Linked DNA regions of Homo sapiens: all the other regions are reported to be linked to region 3. The links are microRNA targets in miRTarBase. Many come from high-throughput screens and were not tested one by one. Region 3 holds a microRNA gene; each other region holds the end of a gene's coding sequence.
The links. Region 3 holds the annotated microRNA hsa-miR-4676-5p (GAGCCAGUGGUGAGACAGUGA, at 1,460-1,480, shown strand). A microRNA usually pairs through its seed, bases 2 to 8, with sites in the 3' UTR of a target mRNA and lowers its output. Matches are read on the target gene's strand: a 7mer-m8 pairs with bases 2 to 8, a 7mer-A1 pairs with bases 2 to 7 and ends in A, and an 8mer does both.

Region 1 (3,247 bases), not on the chromosome of region 3:
GTGGCCTACCTCTGACTGGTGTGCACATCGCGGGTAGGGCCTACTGCCTGGTAGACCTTGCTGTGGAGCATTGGGCAGGGGTTTTCTTCAATACCTGTGAGATCTGTGCTCCTAGACGCCATCACCTGCACCTGCAGCCCCGGCTCTCCCCACCCAGTCATGTCTCCTTAGGGCGAAGCTCCTGGCCTCTGTTGTACAGAAAGCCCTGGCCTGTCCTGCATGTGGGTGAGAGAAGCCAAGCCTGGGGATCCCAGAGGAATCGACAGGCTTATTCTTCTCCATACCTCCAACAGGCTCTCACTGTATGTTTGTTGAAATTGCCCCATCCTCAGTCCACTAAGAAATAAAAGAGCATCCATGTTCATGGATTGAGATTCCCACAGATCGTTGCAAATGTAATGTCATCATTTGCTTGATCCCCTGATAGTACTGATAATTACACAAGGTCATTTCCAGACAGTGGCTACTGTTTCCATTGTGGAGGGGTTTTCAAAGTCTTCCGTACATAAGAACAATTGTAAAGCAGTTTCTGAAATAGAAATCTATTGCAAATAACTTCTTTTAGCTGGACTTTAACCCTTGGGCATTTCATTCTTTTATTTAAACAGATGATGCTGGAGGGTCTTGAAATCTTTACAGTAAAACCTGCAACTTGAAAACTAGCCTTCTGTAACCACAGTGCCCAAACGAAGAGGAATGTATGGAGAACTCCACGTGGATCTCTGATTGCGAAACCGTCACATACACCAAGAGAGCCACATGGGCATGTGGCCCTCAAGGCTGGGTGAGAGGGCTCCCCTGTGTGTTGAACTATGCAGGAGGGTGACGCGGACACATTTCAGGTGGACTTTGCAAGGACTGATGGATAGCTACCTCAGGGACCAGAATCCGTGGGAAGGGATGGACCTGGTGTTCCCGTTCCCATCTGACAGGCTCTCTTTTGTCAAGGTGGTATTTTTCGTAATAAAAGGGGAAGAGTAAAGACTGTCCAAGCAACAGTAGCTGCCAAAGAGAAAATACGAAATAGACACTTTTTTTTTTTGAGTCAGAGTCTCACTCTGTCACCCAGGACAGAGTGCAGTGGTACGATCTCAAGCTCACTGCAGCCACCACCGCCTGGGCTCAAGTGATTCTCCTGCCTCAGCCTCCCGAGTAGCTGGGATTACAGGCGTCCACCACCATGCCCAGCTAATTTTTTTATTTTTAGTAGAGTTGGAGTTTCACCATGTTGGCCAGGATGGTCTCGAACTCTTGACCTCAGGTGATCCACCCGCCTTGGCCTCCCAAAGTGCTAGGATTACAGGCATGAGCCACTGCGCCCAGCAAAATAAACACATTTTATAATTTGTATGTGGAAACATGTTACTATAGAAAGCATTTTAAAGGTACGTTTTAAAGGTCCACTGTTAAATAGTAAAGAATGAATCCGCTAGCGAAAATGTTTTTAGGGAGAACAGCTGGATCAAAAGGGCTTCTTTGGAATTAGGTTGTTTTAGTAACTTCTGTTCCAAAGAAACACAGGTCTGATATTGCTAAGAACTGAAATCGGAGGAGCCAGAGGCCCTTTTCAGTCCAGGCCAACATTGTGCACGGCCACTGTGGGACTGACAACCGGGATAGCTCAAGTTCGAGAGACCAGGTTTCAAACATTATAAGTTCCAGGCTTTGCAAGTCTTTATTCTCTGGGGTAATATCCAGTCTTTCTGTTATTGTCTCTTAAAATTCTCTTCCATGGCCCACATTAAGGGAGTTTGCAGAGAGTGAGGGAGGCAAAACTTGAAAAGGGCCTGCAACACTTTAAACCTTCTCAGGTTCACCCACATGAAACGGCTGTGCTGAGTGTGCTGCCGGTGCCCGGGGAGCTTCTCTGACTGTGACCCGGCAGAGGCTTCTGTGGCGGTGCATGAGCGGCCCTACAGTGGAGGGTTCTCTTTGGAAACAAACAGCCCTGCTTGGTTTCAGTTTGAGGCCACTTATCTTCAATGTGACATTTCTTGCCAAGCCCTGTGACACTCCCCATTGATGACTCCCATAGGTACAGATAAAGTTAAGAACAGGAAACAGAAGGGTAGGATGCATAGGGAGGGAGAGAAGCCCTGAAAACTTTTTTTTTCTTTTTGAAGCATGGAAAACAAATCTTTTATGCCACTCCAGCCATAAATAAAATTTTAACTTCAACCCTGTGTGCTCAGTGTTTCTTTAGTTATGCCAAGGCTTGCTAGAATGTTATTTAGTGAGAATTTTTAGCTTGAGTTGCCACCCAACTGTGAAATCAACTAAATGATTACTTGAATGTATTTAAATGTTTTAAAAAGCAAACATTATAAATTTTTCTTTAATGTCATTTAGTAAGTGCAGTCAGGGAATATCTGAATCTAAGAGCTGGCCAGACACAGGGTATAGCAGAATTACAAGCATAGAGGATGCTATGCAGTAGGATGTAAAGCTCATTACAGCCCATTTTTAAGAAAAGCTTTGTGTGCTCTGCTGGAGGACACAGCCATGTTGCTGCACCACATGGATGTATCTAGTCAGTTCTGTTGTATGCTCGTTGTAGAATGTAAAGTTTATTCCAATCCGATTGATAGATTAAAGGCAATTCCAGCATAGTGCACTTGCTTGTGTATAGTTTAGTCCGTGAGAAACATCACATCAGGAGGTAACAAAGTTGGCCCTGCTGTTTACTGCCTCAAGCTAGAGTAGCTATTACATTTTAAAATGGTTATATTTTAAGACAGGGCAGGTAGCTCAAACCTGTAATCCCAGCACTTTGGGAGGCTGAGGGGGGCGGATCACTTGAGGCCAGGAGTTTGAGACCAGCCTGGCCAACATGGTGAAACCCTGTCTCTACTAAAAATACAAAAATTAGCCTGGCGTGGTGGCGTGTGCCTGTAATCCCAGCTACTTGGGAGACTGAGGCAGGAGAATCACTTGAACCAAGGAGGCAGAGGTTGCAGTGAACCAAGATTGCACCACTGCACTCCAGCCTGGGCGACAGAGGGAATTCCATCTAAAAAAAAATAAAAATAAAATGGTTACATTTTAAATAGTTATACAAGTACCTGCTAAGAACCTCCTTACTATCTCAACAAAGCCTGAATATGTGCTGTGGCCCTTAAATTAGGTTACTGGGCATGCTCTGTTATATCAGAAATGACTGAACTTGGTGGGATCACTGACAGTCTATAAGTCAAAGTTATGAAAGAGAACAGCCAAGCGCGGTGGCTCACGCCTGTAATCCCAGCAC
Region 2 (3,247 bases), not on the chromosome of region 3:
AGGGTTTGAGATTATCCAATTAGCTGTACTCGAAAGTGGCAAATACTTGAAGATCATTGATTTAATTTAAAATTCTGAGTGCTGAGTTCAGTTTCCTACTGAATATAACCAGTGCCCTGGGCTCTGCATGGCAGTTGACTTGCCAATATCTCAATTAAAGTGACTAGGCACAGTGGCTCACACTTGTAATCCCAGCACTTTAGGAGGCCGAGGCCAGGAGCTTGAGACCAGCTGGAGAACATAGTGAGATCCTGTCTCTACAAAAAAATTTAAAAATACATACTTTTTAGACAGGTGTGGTAGATCACACCTGGTGCCTGGTGGCTCCCAGCATTTTGGGAGGCTGAGGACAGGAGGATCATCTGAGCCCAGGAGTTCAAGACCAGCCTAGGCAACAGAGCAAGACTCCATCTCTAAAAAACTAAAAACATTAGCCAGGTGTAGTGGCACACACCTATAGTTGCAGCTACATGGGAGGCCAGGGCAAGAGGATCGCCTGAGCCTAGGAGTTTGAGGCTGCAGTGAGCTACAGACTGCACCACTGCACTCCAGCCAGTAGATTAGAAATGTTTGTGAGAAGGTACCTTAATGGATGGGCAAGATGGACAGCAGCTATAGTAATTATTCATAGCAGCACTCTAGAAATAAAAACTAGATCTTATGTGGCAGGGCTGTGAAAATGCTTTTGTCAAAATTTAAAATTACAGATTAACACCTATGAGGCTGCAGGCACAGGGGTCACGCTGATGAAGGCATAAACCCTGCTCTCAAGTAGCTCACATCCAGTGAAAGGCTCAAACCACAAACAGGGAAGTACGTGAGATTAATTCGTTCAAGGATCAAACAAATGCCTCTTTTCACCCGATGCCACATTTCATTAAATAGTTTGTAGCAGTGATACTATAAAATGTGAGCTTTAAAGAACTCTGGTAACATTTTCAATCTCTTCCTTTCTCCGTACTCTTCTATTTCCCCCCAATTTCTCCAATCCACTCCTAATTTTCACTTGTATCTTTCTTCTACAAAAAACCTAAATATGCCAATTTTACTCTTCTTCCTTCCAGTTAGTAAAATCAATGAAATCACAATTTGAAACAAAATTATAAGTTGTCACACAATATGAAAAATATGAAATTCCTGATGATTCAAGTAGTTTTGATCTATAAAAGCAGCAATTTCATGATTCATCAGTCACTCCCAAGTCCTTGCTTTTATAATTTTTAAATGTGGATTTTATATATTTAGAAATTAAGTACAATGGCAGCAATATGACTATATATTGGCAAGTAACCTGGTGATTTCCAATTTATAAATCTGAGAGCTGTTTCCCATACCTGAAGCCTAACAGCCAATCTGATCCAAATCCAATCTTTCTGTCACTGTCAGCTACTTATTAAAATAATAAGATTTCATTTCTACTTGGAAACAAAATCTTTAACCTGAGTTTCCAGTATTCAAAATATTGCTATTTAGATGTCGGATGCTTAACATTTCATGCCAAAGTCTCACGTGAATGATCTGACATAAGATAGAACATACTACTCAGCAACAAAAAAAATGCACAACTGACACACAGGGATCAATCTCAAAAATCTGCAGAGAGGAAGAAGGCAAAGTACATACTACAGTATTCTATTTACATGAATTCTACAATGGATAGATCTAATCGGTAACCAAAAGCAAATCTGTGGCTGCCTAGGGCTAGGGGTAGAGGAATTGATTGGGAAAGGGGGTATGAGAATTTTGGGGGCAATGAAAATATTTGTATCTTGATCGTGATAGTGGCTGCACAGAGGTATGAATCTGTCAAAACCCAATAAAATACACACGTAAAAAGGGTGCAATAAATCTAAGTAAATAGTACCTCAATTCAGTTGATTTACAAAACACAACATGACAGTATATTTTAAATTAAATGAAACATTAAGACCTTATTTTTTAAAAAAATTAATGTTATGGATAAAGCTAAAGTTCCCTCTGACCACCCTCCCAATCCTGATTTGCACCCCTAATCTCTCATCTATACCTCCTACTCGCTGTTAGAACTTTGGTATGGATTCCTCTGAACCTTTAAAAATAGATTTACGTACATTATATAGCCATAGAGAATGCATAGTATTGTTTTGTACATATATATAATTTGTATATAACTTTCTACAACTTGCTATTTTCACTGAGCATTATGTTTTTGAGACCAATCCAGGTTAATATGGATCTAGATTATTTCTTTTAACTCCAATACAATAATCTATCCTATGACTACATCATATTTTAATTAGGCCATTCCTCTTCAATATTTAGATTGTTTTTCCCTACTACAATTCACCAGTGTAGTGGTAAACAGTAGTCACCACTGGGGTGAGGACAGAACCGCAGGTGGTGTTCTAAGGGTTATTAGCCTTATTTATAAGATGTAGTTATAAGATGAGAATGTATTCATGTTTAATTTACATATGATAAATATTGACTTAAAGAATTTTGAGATACATATATTAGCAAAACGAACAAAACAACATCAGTTATAGGAAGCAAATCATCTAATAAAATATAAGGAAAACAAAGTTGTAGGGCCTAATAGTGTACTCATGGTTTGAAGCATATTTACTGGAAAATAATAAGCACTAAACAGATCATAAAAAAAATAATAAGCACTAAACAGATCATAAAAACATTCTCCTATGCAAAGGAATTCCAATTAATATATCTGTATATTGGTTATCATGGCGTAAGCATAATTAATATAGGTACAAGTACTTCATTTATATTTTTTGCTTTCTTCTTTTATGACTATGGTGTCTTTCCCCATCCCTGAAATAAAAGAGGTATAAAAAAATGGTTATAAATGATGGACATTTTAATATCAGAGCTTTAAAATAATTCAACAGTAATACACCACTTTCAACAGTAATATGCTACTTTAACATTCTATTTGAAAAGAATTTTCTGGTTATCATTTACATATACTCAAAGTTAATTTTAAAGCAGAATTTCAAAGCGTAATTAAAAAAAAATCACTTTGATTATTCCTATTTCAGTTTCGTCTCTTAGTTTTTTTATTTGTTTGTTTCTGTTTTTTTGAGATGGAGTTTCACTCTTGTTGCCCAGGCTGGAGCGCAAATGGCACGATCTTGGCTCACTGCAACCTTCGCCTCCCGGATTCAAGCGATTCCTGCCTCAGCCTCCCAAGCAGCTGGATTTCAGGCGCGAACCACCACACCTGGCTATTTTTTGTATTTTTAGTAGAGTC
Region 3 (3,000 bases):
GTGTGTATTTTACATGTTCTTTTGGCTTTAAGGTATCACTTAACATAACCAGAATGTAGAATTTTCTTCCCAAACAGAGCTCTTTTTGTGATTTTTCTTATTGTCACTTTTGGTTTTTCCAGTGACTTGAGGATAAATCACCTCAGGCATTTATCCTTTATATTACAAACATACAATTATATTCTCTTAGTTATTTTAAAATATACAATTAAATTATTATTGGCTATAGTCACCCTGTTGTGCTATACAATTCTAGGTCTTATTCATTCTTTTAATTATTTTGTGCCCATTAACCATTGCCACTTCCCAATCATTTTTATTGATTGATTAGTTGATTGATTGAGATGGGAGTCTTGCCGTGTGGCACAGGCTGGTCTTGAGCTCCTGGCCTCAAGTGACCCTCCCACTTCAGCCTCCTGAGTAACTGGGACTGATTACAGGTGCAAAATACTACGCCCATCTAATTAAATTTTTTTTTTTGGAGAGACAAGGTCTCACTAGGTTGCCCAGCTGGTCTTGCACTCCTAGCCTCAAGCAATCCTTCCACTATGGCCTGGGATTACAGGCATGAGTCACTGTGCCTGGCCAATAATGTTTCTGATAACCAGTGACTGCTTACTAACTTTCAGGTTGTGTGACATGCCATACATACATGATTTTATTTCATTTATTCTGTGCACCAGTCCTATAAAGTAGGTACTATAATTTCTACTGCTGAAGAAATAAAGACAGGAAGGTTCTATGTAACTTGCTCAAGCTAGTAAGTGATGGAATTAGGAATTCAGGTATATGTCTGCATACTTCCCAGTTGTAACCTCTGTCTCCCCATGCTCCTGAATGCCATGAATAGATTACTCCTTAATCACCAAGTGCATTCCCACCTTTTTCTTAGCCCTTTCACTTTGCAGATCCACTGACTATTAGGCCCTGACTTGTTCCGTTTGTTCCTTTCTCATCATCTCACTCTATCCATCCTTCAAGGCACAGCTCAAGTCCTATCTGTTCAGTGACTTCTTCCTTCTCCTTTCCAATTTATAGAATACTCCTTAGCCCTGCCACACATTTTATACTTCCATTGTGTTGAATCTATCTTTTTATATACGGATGCTTTAGTTTAAACTTCAGATTGTAACCTCCTTGAGGAAAGGGCTTGGATTACAGATTTTACTTGTATTCTCTGCAGTGTCTTATAATAGATGTTCAACAAATGTATATGTTGATCAATTGAAATGATAATAGAACCCTTAATAGCTGAAGATATGTAACGTGCATCTAAGACTCCTGGTTATTTGAGCTTCTTGAAGTACTTTATACATCCAACTAACAGTCTTAATTCAGAACCAGGAATGACATGTTTAGGTTAGAGTTAGATACTGATTTCTAGACAGGAAGCTTAGTAATTGTTGCTACATACTGATCCAAGTAAGAATAGTTCTTTATATCCAGAGCCTGAATGAAAGAGCCAGTGGTGAGACAGTGAGTTGATTACTTCTCACTGTTTCACCACTGGCTCTTTGGTTCATGCTAACAATGTATCTCACCTAGATTATATTAACAGCTTTCTAATTAGTCTCCCTGCTTTTGTTCTTTCTTACCTCTGGTCGTAATTCAGCAGTGGGAATGATGACATCAGGCAGAAGGAGACTTATTCAGTAGCTTCTGATCTCACTCAGTAAAAGACAAAGTTCTTCAAGGGGCCTACAGGTAGTGACAATAAACTGGCTCTCTGGAGGGGGAAAAGGTTCTGATTTGTAGCATTTGCCTGTTTTACTGGTATAATTACTCCCACTCTGGCTGATTCAAAGTTCTAGAATGTACAGCAATCTGCTCCCCAGTCAATATCGGCTTCAGCACATCACTGTTGAACATTTGGCTCCCCGTCTGACTCCCATCTGCTGCCACTTTCCCTCTTGCCCACTCCATTTTGTGATACTGACCTCCTTGCTATTCCTCAAACATGCTGAACATGCACCTACCTCATAGGATTTTTGCACTGCAGTTTTCTATCATTAGAATGCTTTTCTCCTGAATATATACAGGTTTTCTTATTTCTTTTCCCTCTTGAGTCTCTGCTGAAATATTATATTCTCAGTAAGGTCTTCCATGATCTCCTTGCATGAAAATTTTATTTTATTGGTTGTTCTGAGATGATTTTAATATACACTACAGTGTTTTTGTAGTCATCTAGTGCCTTGCTGTAGTGATGCATTACTGCTATTTCTAGGCAATGTCATCTGTGGGTGGGCATAATGGTTATATTTGCTGTTGAGACTTAAAAAGAAGCATTTCATTTTGTTTGAAACGAAAATATCTGTGATACATATAAACAAATCAGTTTGGGCCTCTTATTGGTAATTGCAACTTGAATTACTATCCACTTAGGCTCCTTATGGGGAATGCAACAATATTTATGGTTAAGTGTACATTTGATAGTATATTGTTCTCACAGTAACATCATTGTGGGTTTGAAGATCTGTGCTAAGTTATGAAACAATGGAATTTATACACTTTATTTGAAGATAAATTGGGTTTATAGGGAATTCTTGGTATAAATATTAACGTGTAGATTAGTATAACATACTGTTTATTATAATTAGAAAAAGCTGTGGGCACTTAAATCCCAGCTACTTGGGAGGCTGAGGCAGGAGAATCACTTGAACCCGGGAGGCAGAGATTGCAGTGAGCGGAGATTGCACCTTTGCACTCCAGCCTGGGCAACAAGAGTGAAACTCCATCTCAAAAAAAAAAAAAAAAAAAAAAAAAAAGGTACATGACTTCTTATGAACTAGATGCCACCTTTTCCCCTTAACCTCAGCTGTTTCTTTTTCTTTTCTGTTTTATTAAGGAACTTTAACCTCCCGCTTGACTTAGTCTAGGCATAGCTAATATTACAGTGAGGTAACAAGATTGAGTTGTAGTTATTGGCACTTTTTTCTTTCTTTCTTTTTTTTTTTTTAACATGCAACTATTTTTACAAGCAAAATTCTAGTGTAACCAGAG
Region 4 (3,247 bases), not on the chromosome of region 3:
ACTCAGTTCCCTGAGACTACTTCCAGCTGTCTCAGAGACATTAATGATTTTAGACTAATTTCTAAAGACCTCTTTCATTTTGATTTTATTATATTTTTGTTACTAAAAAACTTTTTTAGTGGTTCAGAAGCATTAACAAGTCAGAAAAGACAAGTGGAATTTCCTCAGTGGACCAGCAGAGAAAAGACCTAATAAGGAAAAAAAGAGAGATCAGTATTATTTGTAACTAAAGTGCCAGTCCTTCTGCTAGACGCTTTTCATGTAACTACATTTAATCTGCACAATAACTGTATGAAGTAAACAGGATTATCACATACTTACAGCTGAGGAAGCAAAGTCTGAAAGCCAGAAAGTCTGACTAATTTATCTAAGATCACACCACAGCCAGGTAGTAGAACTGGGGTCAGATCAGTAGTGTCTGCCTGGTTTTGAAGCCTGATTTGATTTCTCCATTATAAAATACATTGCTGCTGGTCTCAACTAGTTTTTCTGTTACATGTTTTAAACACAATGGATGTTTCTTTGTATCTTCTTCACCAGGCTTTTCTGATGTGGATCACACCTATGCTCAAAGAACTCAGCTCTTTGACACCTTAGTAAATTTCTTTCCTGACAGCATGACTCCTCCTAAAGGCAACCTGGTAGACCTCATCACACTGTAACTGAAGAGTCACTGGACACAGAAATGGAAAACAGGAGTCGATTTTCCGTCTTTTGGATTGCAGCTCCACTGACTGACAGTAAAGCTGCAGTGATTGAGGACTGCACCAGAGTTCTGAAGGGATCTTAACCATCACAAGTTTTTACCCTCTTCCTTCATGCCTGACCTCAACCCCGCTCTCCTCATCCTATTCCTAAATTAGGCTAATAAAGTGAAATTGGTATACTTTCCAGTTAAATATATATATATATATATTTTTTCTTACTTTATCTTTTAAGAATTAATGAGTATAAAAGAAAAATTAGGCAGTTTACCCTTTTCAGATTTTTATTTCTTTTTTTTTTAATTGGGGGAAATAAGCACTATTAACAGATTCAGCACTACAAGTATTTTGAATGTTGTTGCTGTTGGTCATTTGGCCTGCCTTTTCCCTTCCTATTTCACTTTGCCTCCCATCACACAACTGCGTGTAAATGGTGTCACTTGTTCACCTCTTTACTTCATTCTTAACAAGTGTATAGTTCTCTAGGACAGTTGATGTATGTTAAGGTGATATCTGTGTCTGTATTGACTTGTCTTGTGTTACATTAAACAGTAGGCAGAACTGAGGTCTCAAGTTTGCACTCTTGGCCATAGAACTAAAAATGAAACCTGAGATTGACCCAAGCACCTATCTGAGATTGGTATATAATATTTCTATAATGATATATTTTATAGTAGATATTACAATAGCATCTGACTTTGAGTCACAGAAACCTTAAACTGAGGAGACAATAGTTCAGAACCTTTTTAAGAGCCATTCTAAAAGTGACCAGCAGGAGGGATCTAGTAGTGAATAATATCTTAATAGCAATTTTAGGAGAAAATGACTCTTTCGTCCAGAAGAGCTCTGCAGAACCAGGGCTCCCGTTTATCTTGTGCTATCTCTGTAGTATTTTCATTTGAGAGAGGAGGCTGAGTTTCCAGAGCTTTGCTTTCATTTATTTTTATACACATTGTCTCTCTATATCTGCTTGTGGATATTGTTATTTTGAAGAGAAATGGTTTGTGGTTGTCCAGTGGTATACAACTGACAGGCATTTCATTAAGCACATAGACCAGACTTTGTGAATGGTTCAGATATTTTTTCATTAAAAAACAAGGTATGGCAGATGGACTTTTCCATGGGTCAAATTTTTTGTGTGAGAGATAGAGGTACATGTCTTCTGATGATGTGCTGTGGAATGCAATGTGGGAAACCTACATCTGGCTAGTGCTTACATTTGCTCAAAAAGCATGTTGTATGAAGCTGACTGCCACCATGCTAAAGCAGATTCATATTAAGAAGTGTCGGTCGATCCAGTGGCTCTTAAGAGTGAATAGCTTTATGGAATCAAGTATGTCCCTGAGTAGCAAGATTAGGCCTCACCAAAGAAGAAATTAACCTGCACTTTCAAAAAGTACCATGTATAGGAATGAAACATTGAGGTCCCACTTTATTCTGTCTTTAGTACATGGTTTTACTTATTTTGGGGATGGATAGAAATATATTTTTGCTAGTTCTAGGCTTGAATCATGGGCTCCTTGGCTTTCCTAGCATCCCAAAGCAGTCAACAGTGATTTCTTAAGCAATTTGATCTGTACCTTTACTTGTGAAAGGTATGCTATATAATTCAGCAAGTACCAACTTGTGTAGCTGCAGAATAACCAAGTGGCTATCCAGTCAAGTAAATACAGTTTGCTTACATACTTCAACAGTTTCATAAAACGATTCCCCTGAGTGACACAAGAACATAAAATGTTAATATCACTAATATAGCCTGTTAAATCTTTTGTGGAGACAGGTGCAAATCAGAAGATTGACAAGGAAGAACTTGAGCTTGCTAAATAAGACTTCCTAAATTTAAAAGCTCTAGTTTTGCTTAGTGTGAATTCTGGCACTTTAAAAAGATTAAGCAAGTGAAATTCTGCTGCCCTCCACCATTTATTTTTACAGTGCTTTGTAATTTTTTTCATCAGTTCCTTAAATGTTATTTGGAGGAAACTAAGTTCTTGACCTCAGTAATTTTATTTTTGTTTTTCCCTAAATGTTTCCCTACTAGTCTTTTTGGAAAACATGTTTGTTTTAATTTCATCTTCCCTCACTTTATTTAGGTAGAATTTTTCCCCCTTCATTTCTGAAATTTTTTGCTCACCGCCATGTTTAAATGGGGTTGAATCATAGCGAGCCATTTGCTCTTGCCAAAGTGAGATAGATGTACTGAGGAGATAATTGAAAAGTCAGACTCTGTACTGTGGGGCTTTAATCGGAGCACTGCTGGAAATGATTGCAGAGAATGTAGTGCTTCATATATCCATGACCAAGATTGACATGTTGCTCACAACATGTCACAATTTAGTGAGGAGCTACATGTATTTCCAAGAATTCCAGCATAGATTATAATTTAAATAATCGAATTTGGTATTTAGGTACATTGTTTATATAGCCAAGTGTATATGCTTTACTACCTAACAATTATTCTAGCCTAGGTGAATCCCTAATTGAAACACCTGGCTAACACTTTAGACACATAAATTAAGTGGGATACAGTTTTCTCATTTGTATTA

Region 1: miRTarBase lists FAM118A as a target of hsa-miR-4676-5p. The part of its 3' UTR that is shown has no 7-base or 8-base seed match.
Region 2: the mRNA of SNRNP48 is a reported target of hsa-miR-4676-5p. Seed matches in the 3' UTR shown: 7mer-m8 at 551-557 and 7mer-A1 at 432-438.
Region 4: miRTarBase lists MKLN1 as a target of hsa-miR-4676-5p. Seed matches in the 3' UTR shown: 7mer-A1 at 1,907-1,913 and 7mer-A1 at 3,191-3,197.

The regions. Positions count from the first base shown.
Region 1 is chr22:45,339,778-45,343,024 of GRCh38, forward strand. It overlaps FAM118A (family with sequence similarity 118 member A), which reads left to right. Exons shown (of 9, transcript NM_017911.4): 9 at 609-2,178. The coding sequence ends at 628. Among named protein-coding and RNA genes, the nearest start is that of FAM118A, 31 kb to the left of the region's middle.
Region 2 is chr6:7,608,386-7,611,632 of GRCh38, reverse strand. It overlaps SNRNP48 (small nuclear ribonucleoprotein U11/U12 subunit 48), which reads right to left. Exons shown (of 9, transcript NM_152551.4): 9 at 1-2,808. The coding sequence ends at 2,760. Among named protein-coding and RNA genes, the nearest start is that of SNRNP48, 20 kb to the right of the region's middle.
Region 3 is chr10:72,719,579-72,722,578 of GRCh38, forward strand. MIR4676 (microRNA 4676) reads left to right here and starts at 1,451; the gene lies at 1,451-1,522. The region is part of intron 1 of MCU (mitochondrial calcium uniporter); the gene reads left to right.
Region 4 is chr7:131,487,067-131,490,313 of GRCh38, forward strand. MKLN1 (muskelin 1) reads left to right here. Exons shown (of 18, transcript NM_013255.5): 18 at 541-3,247. The coding sequence ends at 662. Among named protein-coding and RNA genes, the nearest start is that of PODXL, 68 kb to the right of the region's middle.